Linked DNA regions of Homo sapiens: regions 2 and 3 are each reported to be linked to region 1. The links are microRNA targets in miRTarBase. Many come from high-throughput screens and were not tested one by one. Region 1 holds a microRNA gene; each other region holds the end of a gene's coding sequence.
The links. Region 1 holds the annotated microRNA hsa-miR-4438 (CACAGGCUUAGAAAAGACAGU, at 1,973-1,993, opposite strand). A microRNA usually pairs through its seed, bases 2 to 8, with sites in the 3' UTR of a target mRNA and lowers its output. Matches are read on the target gene's strand: a 7mer-m8 pairs with bases 2 to 8, a 7mer-A1 pairs with bases 2 to 7 and ends in A, and an 8mer does both.

Region 2: miRTarBase lists GPR137B as a target of hsa-miR-4438. The part of its 3' UTR that is shown has no 7-base or 8-base seed match.
Region 3: the mRNA of FBXO6 is a reported target of hsa-miR-4438. Seed matches in the 3' UTR shown: 7mer-A1 at 733-739 and 7mer-A1 at 867-873.

Annotation. Positions count from the first base shown.
Region 1 is chr2:213,756,763-213,760,114 of GRCh38, reverse strand. MIR4438 (microRNA 4438) reads right to left here and starts at 2,048; the gene lies at 1,956-2,048. The region is part of intron 10 of SPAG16 (sperm associated antigen 16); the gene reads right to left.
Region 2 is chr1:236,207,902-236,210,901 of GRCh38, reverse strand. GPR137B (G protein-coupled receptor 137B) reads right to left here. Exons shown (of 7, transcript NM_003272.4): 7 at 1,995-2,852. The coding sequence ends at 2,744. Among named protein-coding and RNA genes, the nearest start is that of GPR137B, 67 kb to the right of the region's middle.
Region 3 is chr1:11,673,311-11,676,310 of GRCh38, forward strand. FBXO6 (F-box protein 6) reads left to right here. Exons shown (of 6, transcript NM_018438.6): 5 at 1-102; 6 at 305-1,044. The coding sequence ends at 541. MAD2L2 (mitotic arrest deficient 2 like 2) reads right to left here. Exons shown (of 9, transcript NM_006341.4): 6 at 2,736-2,830; 7 at 2,348-2,421; 8 at 1,772-1,864; 9 at 1,170-1,506. The coding sequence ends at 1,465. Among named protein-coding and RNA genes, the nearest start is that of MAD2L2, 6.3 kb to the right of the region's middle.

The DNA.
Region 1 (3,352 bases):
AATTTATAAGTAATTTCTGAAAAGAAGGAAGCTACTTCTGTCATTTTACTATTTTTGAATTCTTTTTTTTTTCTTTTTTTGAGACAGAGTCTTGCTTTGTCACCCAGGATGGAGTGCCATGGCACAATCTTGGATCACTGCAGCCTCCGCCTCCTGGGTTCAAGTGATTCTCCTCCCTCAGCCTCATGAGTATCTGGGACTATAGGCATGTGCCACCACACCTAGCTATTTTTTGTATTTTTAGTAGAGACAGGGTTTCACCATGTTGGCCAGGATGGTTTCGATCTCCTGACTTCATGATCCACCCACCTCGGCCTCCCAAAGCGCAGGGATTGCAGGTGTGAGCCACTGCGCCCAGCCACTATTTGAATTCGTTATAGCTTATAGATGTTTCCCTACATTTCCTGCATTACTATCTTTTATATTTAGTTGTCTATTTTATTTTCTTTAGTGATTTGCTTAAATTTCTTTCTCATTTCCTTGTATATAGCTATTTTCTTGGTGGTTACCATAGGGATTATATTTTAGATCCTGCATATATAACATTCTAATTTAAATTTGTACCACCATAACTGCAATAATATATAAAAACTCGGCTCCTTCAAAAGCTCCATTCCCCCACCCTCTCAATTTTTGATGTCACAAAATTATATCTTTATGTATTATACAAAAATATAAACATGTAAGTATTTTAAATTCATTAGTCTCTTAAATTATGTACAAAACAAAATTGGAGTTACAAAGCATAATATGAACTTTTATACAAATTTAAATATATATATATTAACCTCTTAAAGCATGTAGAACACGAAAAGTGCAGTTAAAAAGTATTGTTACAATAATATAAGCTTTTATAATTTTCTATGTATTTTCCTTTATTAAGATCTTTATTTCTTTACACAACTTCAAGTTACTGTCTAGTGTCTTCTCATTTCACTCTGCAGGAGGATTTCTTGCAAGTCAGGTCCAATGGTAACAAGCTCTCCCAACTGTTGTTTTCCTGGGGATGTCTTAATTTCGCCCTCACTTTAAGGACAGTTTGGCTGGATATAAGATTCTTGTTTGATAATGTTTTCTGTTTTTGTTTTTCTTTAGCACTTCGAATGTCAGCCCACTGCCTTCTGGCCTGCAACGTTTCTGGTGAGAAATATACTGATAATCTTACTGATTATTCCTTATAAGTAATATATTGATGTTTTTCTGCTGCTTTTAAGATTCTATCTTTGTCTCCACCTTTTAAAGCTTTGATTATAATGTATTTCAGTTTATGTCTTTTTGAGTTCATCTTCCTTGAATTCTGTTGGATTTCTTGAATGTTTATATTAATGTCTTTTATCAGATTTGGAAAGGTTCTATCCGTTGTTTCTTCAAGTTTTCTCTTCTCTTTCTCCTCTCCTCCTGTGACTCCTTGATTGTGTCACACAGGTCCCTTAGACTCTGTTTACTTTTTTCAATTCTTTTTCCTTCTGTTCCTTGATTTCCATTGTCCTATCTTCAAGTTTACTGACTGTTTCCTTTGCTTGCTCAAATCTTCCTTTGAATCGCTCTAGTAAATTTTTTATTTAAGTTGTTGTACTTTTCAGCTCCCAATTTTTTTTAACTTCTTGTGAGGTTTCCTATCCATTGAATTTTTTTCATTTTGTTCATATATCATTTTCTTGACTTTCTCTATATCTTCCTGTAGTTCTTTGATCATTTAACACAATTATTTTAAAGTCCCTCTGTAGCAGATCCACCATCAAGTCATTTTAGGGATTTCATATTTTCCTTTGGACAAGACATAGTTTCTTAATTTTTTGTATGAATTGTGATTTTGGATCTAATAACATAGTAACTCTAAAAATTAGATTCTCCCTCTTACTGAGAGTTTGCGGTTACTTCAGTCAATGATTTTGCTTTTTATATTGTCATAAGAGGATTCTGTTGTAGGCTATCTCTGTGCCAAGAATCAGTCTGAAGTGTAAACTTAAAGACTGTCTTTTCTAAGCCTGTGCCAAAGGAAAGGCAAGGCACAGGCTTAGAAAAGACAGTCCTTAAGTTTACACTTAGTAACTTAGTCATTTTCTGATTGTCACCATATGTGCAGTTACTTTGAATGCCCTACTTTTTAATGTCTAGCTGTCAAAGGGGGAAAAACAGAAAAATAAAGTAGGAGAAGGGCACTGGCCCTTTTAATCTTCTGGAAGTCACTTCAGCCAGCAGGGAGGGGCTTGCAATAATGGATAGAGGTGCAACAATAACCACTCACCTCTTTGCGTCCATCTTTGTGACCAGAAACAGCAATCAGCAATCAGAGCAAAGATTGCCGATATTTGGATGACAGGTCCTTTTTTTGCCCACTCTGGTTCCTGCATGCTCTGTGCAGACTGCTCCAGTAACATGTGCACAGCTGCCTGCTACAGGGGTGACTGTGGGAAATGGGTAGCTACTACTGTGGTTAAGTGCTGAAATTGACTGAAATTAATCATAATTCGCCATGCAAGCTTTCCCCTAGAAGTTGCAAGCCTTTAGTAGATGTCAAAAATCCAAAATAGTTATATATCAGACAGATTCTGCCAGTACAATTGTTCTCTAGGTGGGAAGACAGATTCCTGGTGCTTCCTACTCCACCATATTTCTATAACTATTTCTCCATAATGTTTTAACTACTGTAATTTTGTAATATCCTTTGAAGTCAGGAAGTGCAGGACCTCCAGCTTGTTCTTTAGATTGTTTGGGCTCTTTTTGGTTCTCTGCGGTTGCATATGAATTTTAGAATTGCTTTTTCTATTTCAGAAAAAAAAAACAGCTATGGGTATTTTGATATGGATGGTATTTAACCTGTGGATAGCTTTAAGTAGTATGGACAACAATATTAAGTCATCTAATTCATGAATATATATGTCTATTTATTACCATCTTTATTTTCTTTAGAAATGTTTGTAGTTTTCAGAGAACAAGTCTTTAGTCTCCTGTTAAGTTTATATTTCTATGTATTTTTGATGCTATTTTAACCCAATTTTTAAAAATTTCCGTTTCAGATTTATGTTAGTATATGAAATCACAACTGATATTTGCATATTGATTTTGTGTCCTGCAACTTTGCTGAATACATTTATTAATTCTAGTAAGCTTTTTTATGTGGAATATTTAGGATTTTTTACATTCCATTTCTTTATTCCCTCTTTGCTCTATAAAGACAACACCATAAGGGTTTCATATGCTAAACATTCAAAAACACTTCTTTAAAAAAGCTATCTACTATCAACTGCCTCAAAGCCATCATTGAGATATTAGCTGAATATAACAGTTATTACATCATTTAATTTCAGTGTCAAAGCTTTACTTTCTTCATATAAAAAAAAACTATTTG
Region 2 (3,000 bases), not on the chromosome of region 1:
CCCAGAAACGTTCACATGAAACTTTTCAGTGTTCCATCAGACTTAGCTAAATGATGGCACAAAATTTTCAGTGATTCCCTCTTCCCCATATACTTCAACTTTCTAATCATCAGGGCTTTAATTTCATCGTGTTGCTTTAAAACAAGAGGACATTTGGGTATTTTGCAACCAGTAATCACCATTCCTTTTCCTCTTAGCATTTAATATTCCACATAAGTAGTTTTTTTGTTTTGTTTTGTTTTGTTTTGAGACCGAGTCTTGCTCTGTTGCCCAGGCTGGAGTGCAGTGGCGCAATGTCCGCTCACTGCAAGCTCCGCCTCCTGGGTTCACACCATTCTTCTGCCTCAGCCTTCCAAGTAGCTGGGACTACAGGCACCCGCCACCACGCCCGGCTAATTTTTTGTATTTTTAGTATAGACGGGCTTTCACCGTGTTAGCCAGGATGGTCTAGATCTCCTGACCTTGTGATCCTCCCGCCTCGGCCTCCCAAAGTGCTGGGATACAGGCGTGAGCCACCGCGCCCAGCCAGAAGTAGTTTTGTTAGTGTACCTAGTAGAACAAGTAAATTAGAAAGCCAAAGGGAATTTTAATTTTCCTTACTAAGAAGGAAGGAGAGTTTGAGTAATCAATCATAGTTTTTTTGTATTCCGTGTTTACAACACTTCTAGAAATTTTAGCATTACATTTTTAAAAGGGGAATGAGAAAAATAGGCACTTAGAACATTTTTATACTATCTAACAAAAATAATAGTTCAAATAAATCCCAGTAGCTTCATCATAAAAGTAGGCTGACTTCTCTCACTTAATGCTGGGTATTCCAATTTTTCTGCCAGTAACAACAGAACTGTGTTTACATATTACAGGATGAGTATGATATTAGTGATAGTCTTATCACTATTTTTAAAAATATATCTTCCCTTAGCTGACCTAATACTGAAGGACTTCAGGACTTTCTGAAGATGTAACTTAAAGGAGTTTAAAACATGCTGAGTCTGCCTTTAAATTAACTATTAGTAATACAGTGTGACCACAATAATCTGTTAAAGCTATTTAGAATAATAGCTTATAATGTGTTAAGGCAACTTGAATAACAGTGTAGGGTTCACTTCAGTATAGACTTTTCCCTGATAACTACTTTAAATGCTATGTTACCCCAATTTTTTCATGTACTAGAAGACAAGAATGTTGTTATGTAGGATTATGCAGAGTGAAGGTGTTCTATACACATGAAAAGCCCAATGATGATCAATTTGAAACTTGAGATCCCAATTTTAAATACTACCAAAACAATAGTAGACTTCATCTGTGAAATCAATGCCCAGAGATCAGTTATTCCTGAAGATCAAAATGAGAGGAGTCATTTGAAATGGGTTGCATCATGTAGTAGGACTTGTTAATATAAGTTCCTTTTCATTGAACCTTCCCTCTGTCCCCAGATGAGCATTCCTAGGCAGAGAAGAAACGTGCCTTGTTTCTGGTAACAGTACTTCCTCTAGAACCTTATCTCTGTTTTATAGAAAAGCAGAGCATTTAGCCTCCCAATAGGCAGTTTTATGGCTCCAGGATATATATAGTGGAGTTTTTAGAATGGCACTTCCGGTCTGGGAGGCAGTACTTCATAACCTGTTTTTTACTTAAATGAAAGATGACTTACAAGGAATTGTCTGGAACATGGCTGACAGGCATCATGCTACAGCATATTGCAGTGCTATTGCCATTTTTAAATGTGCAGCTTCCAATAGGCTCTTTACAGAGCTATTTAGAAGGGCATTATTTTAAATATAGTTGGAGATTACGGAAAAAACTATTAGGATTCCACATAGTCTTAGCTCAACGGCTTGGGGTATTTGTTATTAATGCCCTTTATGGACCCTCTTATTTTCTCCTTGAATGTAATGAACATTCAGTGAGTTCGGAAAGGGGTGTATTCTTGATGTGGCCCTGAGGTAATGCATATTAGATTTCATTAGGCTGAAAAAAAACTATGCAGAATCTGTGAACATAGCAGAGGAGGTTTAATAGGATAAGTCAGCTACATTTTTAATGTTATCAACTTATCATTAATGTGTATACATTAGCGCCCTACTGAAAGGAAGTACCAGTCTTTGGGCAAAACTTAAGAGATTCCTTGAGGAACCTACGGCCTGAACCTTAAAAAAAAAATCTCTAAAGACCTTACAGTCTGCTGCTTTACCATTTCATTTTAATTATCAACACTGGAGTTGCAATTGGCTAAGTTGTCAACTGTATTTTAGGAGTCTACCAATGTGGCACTCAGAATCGGAGTGACCATCAGTGACCTAAAGAGGTAAGATTTGTGGAATACTTTAGTCCAAAAGCTTTAAAAAACTATTAGACCATATATTCTATATTTTTAAAGTGAATTATGCATAAAAGTCTGTGCAAACTACAACATGATTGCAGTAACATTCTCAAGAAAAAAAAACCCTAGTATACTTTAGCATTATTATTTAAGTTATACAAAATACATCTTTATAAAAGTACAGATTTTCTTTAAAAAGTTTAAATTATACCCACTGAAATAGCAAGGCTCCCTCTTTAGTACTAAAATAAGGGTTTATCAGTCTACATTATTGCTTATTCCTATGGGGCCATTGGAAACCTGTAACAAATAAAAATCAAGTTCTATTTCTTAAGGAAAAGTGCCCTAAAAATTCAGCTGTCACTATGCTTTTCTGAAGCTTTTCATCTGAGGAATCGTCCATAAAACTGTTAACTGATGCTACCCAAGGCTTGGTTTGTCAGGATCCAAAGTTGAGTCTTGCAAAGTTCCTGCTTGTGCCAGGAAGCTGTTAGTTTGTTGTCCCCAATCATAGTAATCTGGAGCAAAACTTAAAAAGAAAAAAATATTTCAGTGACTTGAAACATTATATAGTATGTATGACATAGTCTAGTTTAGGTAGACAGAGCTGAGATTTTTGTGTAAACTATAGATAACTCTAAAGTTCTTTTAAATGGCTCTTAAAGTCCATTTTCCCA
Region 3 (3,000 bases), not on the chromosome of region 1:
CAACTCAAAGTGCAGCTGGCCTCGGCTGACTACTTCGTGTTGGCCTCCTTCGAGCCCCCACCTGTGACCATCCAACAGTGGAACAATGCCACATGGACAGAGGTGAGGCCTCACCCACTTGCTCTCTCTACCCACTCCTCCCAGGGCCAGGATGGCAGGAAGCAAAGGGCAGCCTCAGGGCCCAGGGTGCCCCTGCTGGCCTGGAGCTGTTGCCTTCCAGCCTGGGCAGCTCTCTTAGAGGACCTGGCTCCTGCCTTCCCCTCCCCCGTCCCGGTGGTCACTTCCTCTCCCTTCCTCCCAACAGGTCTCCTACACCTTCTCAGACTACCCCCGGGGTGTCCGCTACATCCTCTTCCAGCATGGGGGCAGGGACACCCAGTACTGGGCAGGCTGGTATGGGCCCCGAGTCACCAACAGCAGCATTGTCGTCAGCCCCAAGATGACCAGGAACCAGGCCTCCTCCGAGGCTCAGCCTGGGCAGAAGCATGGACAGGAGGAGGCTGCCCAATCGCCCTACCGAGCTGTTGTCCAGATTTTCTGACAGCTGTCCATCCTGTGTCTGGGTCAGCCAGAGGTTCCTCCAGGCAGGAGCTGAGCATGGGGTGGGCAGTGAGGTCCCTGTACCAGCGACTCCTGCCCCGGTTCAACCCTACCAGCTTGTGGTAACTTACTGTCACATAGCTCTGACGTTTTGTTGTAATAAATGTTTTCAGGCCGGGCACTGTGGCTCACGCCTGTAATCCCAGCACTTTGGGAGACCGAGGCAGGTGGATCACGAGGTCAGGAGATAGAGACCATCCTGGCCAACACGGTGAAACCCTGTCTCTACTAAAAATACAAAAAATTAGCCGGGCGTGGTGGCGGGCGCCTGTAGTCCCAGCTACTCGGGAGGCTGATGCAGAAGAATGGCGTGAACCCGGAAGGCAGAGCTTGCAGTGAGCCGAGATCACGCCACTGCACTCCAGCCTGGGTGACAGAGCGAGACTCTGGCTCATAAAATAATAATAATAATAAATAAATAAAAAATAAATGTTTTCAGTAAAACCAGCCTGGGGTTGGTTTTAGGAGTGGGGAGAGGGGGTCCCTGGCATTTTGGTGGAGAAGCAGCCCCTCTCCCAGGTTACCCTGGCCATACCTGTCCCTCCCACTCCAGTTAATGATGGCTCAGCTCAGCCCAGCCCTTGGGGCCCCTTTATTGAAACAACTCACAGCACAGTATTTGAGACAGACAGTGTTGGCCGGCGGAACCCCAGGAGGCTGAGAAGTCGAGGTTGCGGCATCCCTCACTGCCCTCCTGGGGGAGGCATCCTCCAAGCAGACCTGAGCGGCCCCGGGCTGGGGCGGGCGATCCACACACAGAGGCGATAAGAGCACTTGGAATCAGGGCAGCCATGCAGCACTGCCCTAGGCGGGGATCCCCCAAAGTCTGACAGTTTGGGCATCAGTGGGGTGGCAGGTGCCCCCTCAGCTGCCTTTATGAGCGCGCTCTTCCACGTAAAGCTGCATCTGACGGACACAAGCAAACAGCCACAGTCAGCAAGACAGCCAGGGCATCCCTGCTGGAGGACACAGAAGCCCCTGGTGGGCAGACCTCCACCACAGGTGGGGCCTCGTGGCCATAGCCATGGTGGAGAAGAGTAGAGATGGGAGGAGCCCTCCACCAGGCACTCCCCCGTTCTCTCCCGCAAGCCCTCTAGTAAGGCCTCAGCACCGGGCCTCACTTCGTTAAGCAGCCCCTAAATAAAGCTTCCCGGGTCCCCACGAAGCTCACCTTTAAAATGTCCGACGTCATGGTTTTTAGTGGTATCAGCCGGGGGTCATGCATGTGGACATCCTGCTCATCCGCCAGGATCCAGGGGAAATCCTAGGGAGGAGACAAAGGTCAGGGGGGTGACGGGGCTGGGCCCTGGCCTGCCCTCACTTTGCTGTCCCTCCCACTCCAGACCAGGGGCCTCCAACCTGAGCCTCAGAATCACTAGGAAGCTGTTGGTGATGCAGACCCCAGGACCGCCCCCATCCCCCACAGAGGCCAAGTCCATAGAACCCAAGTGACGAACAGGCTCCAGGCACCAACGCTGAACCTGGTGGGCTAGGACCCCTCCCTGGAGAGCCCCCACTTCAGAAGAGCCAGGATGAGCTGGGGGCCCCAGTAGGTGGCTCCACCTGGGCTCCTCACTGCCCCAAGTGCCCAGATGGAGCAGTGGACAGGCCTGAGGACCTGCTGGGTGCCAGGCGCTGCCACACCAATGTAATGGGTGGCTGGCCACAGGCAGTGCCCCTGCCCGCCTGGAACTGCGACATCACGTTTCTAGAGCCTGCGCCCAGACCCAGACCCATCTCATCTCACCTTGATGACCTGGATCTTCTCCATGTTGCGAGTGGCGGCTTCTCTCGTGTGCACCAGGACTGTGAAGGTACAGCCTGGAGAGGCAAGAGGTTGGTGGAGGCTCCCCCACCGCCCTGGTGCCAGCCACTGGGCCCAGCCTCTTCCCACTTCCCTTGCTGGCTCAGCAGCACCCCCAGAGCAGATGGCAAAGCAAGTGCTAAGAAAAGCCCCAGTCAATAGGGAGATGGAAGCCAGGTAGAATCAATCAGGGAAGCTTCCCAGAGGAGGTGGACTCTCAGGGTTAGGAAGAGATGAGTCTCAGAACAGCCAAACATGGACCTGGGAACACAGACCAACCCGAGATAACCATGGAAATGCCAAGGGAAGAGAGGGTGGGGAGTGGACACACCTGGGGGGTTGTGGTCCAGGACGGCATCGCACACGCTGATCTTCAGGATGAAGGCCCGGAGCAGCTGCTCCACATGAGACAACAGCGAGTCTGAGCTGGGAGTGAGAGGAGGTCTTCCCATCACACTGGCGCCCTCCCCTCCACCACAGGCATCAAGCCTGGATGCAGACCTGGGGTACAAGACCCCCTCCAGTGCCTGTGAGAGTGCTGCATGCCTAGGACCCAGCTCCCTATCCGGTCCACACAATTAAACCAGCAAGGGAGT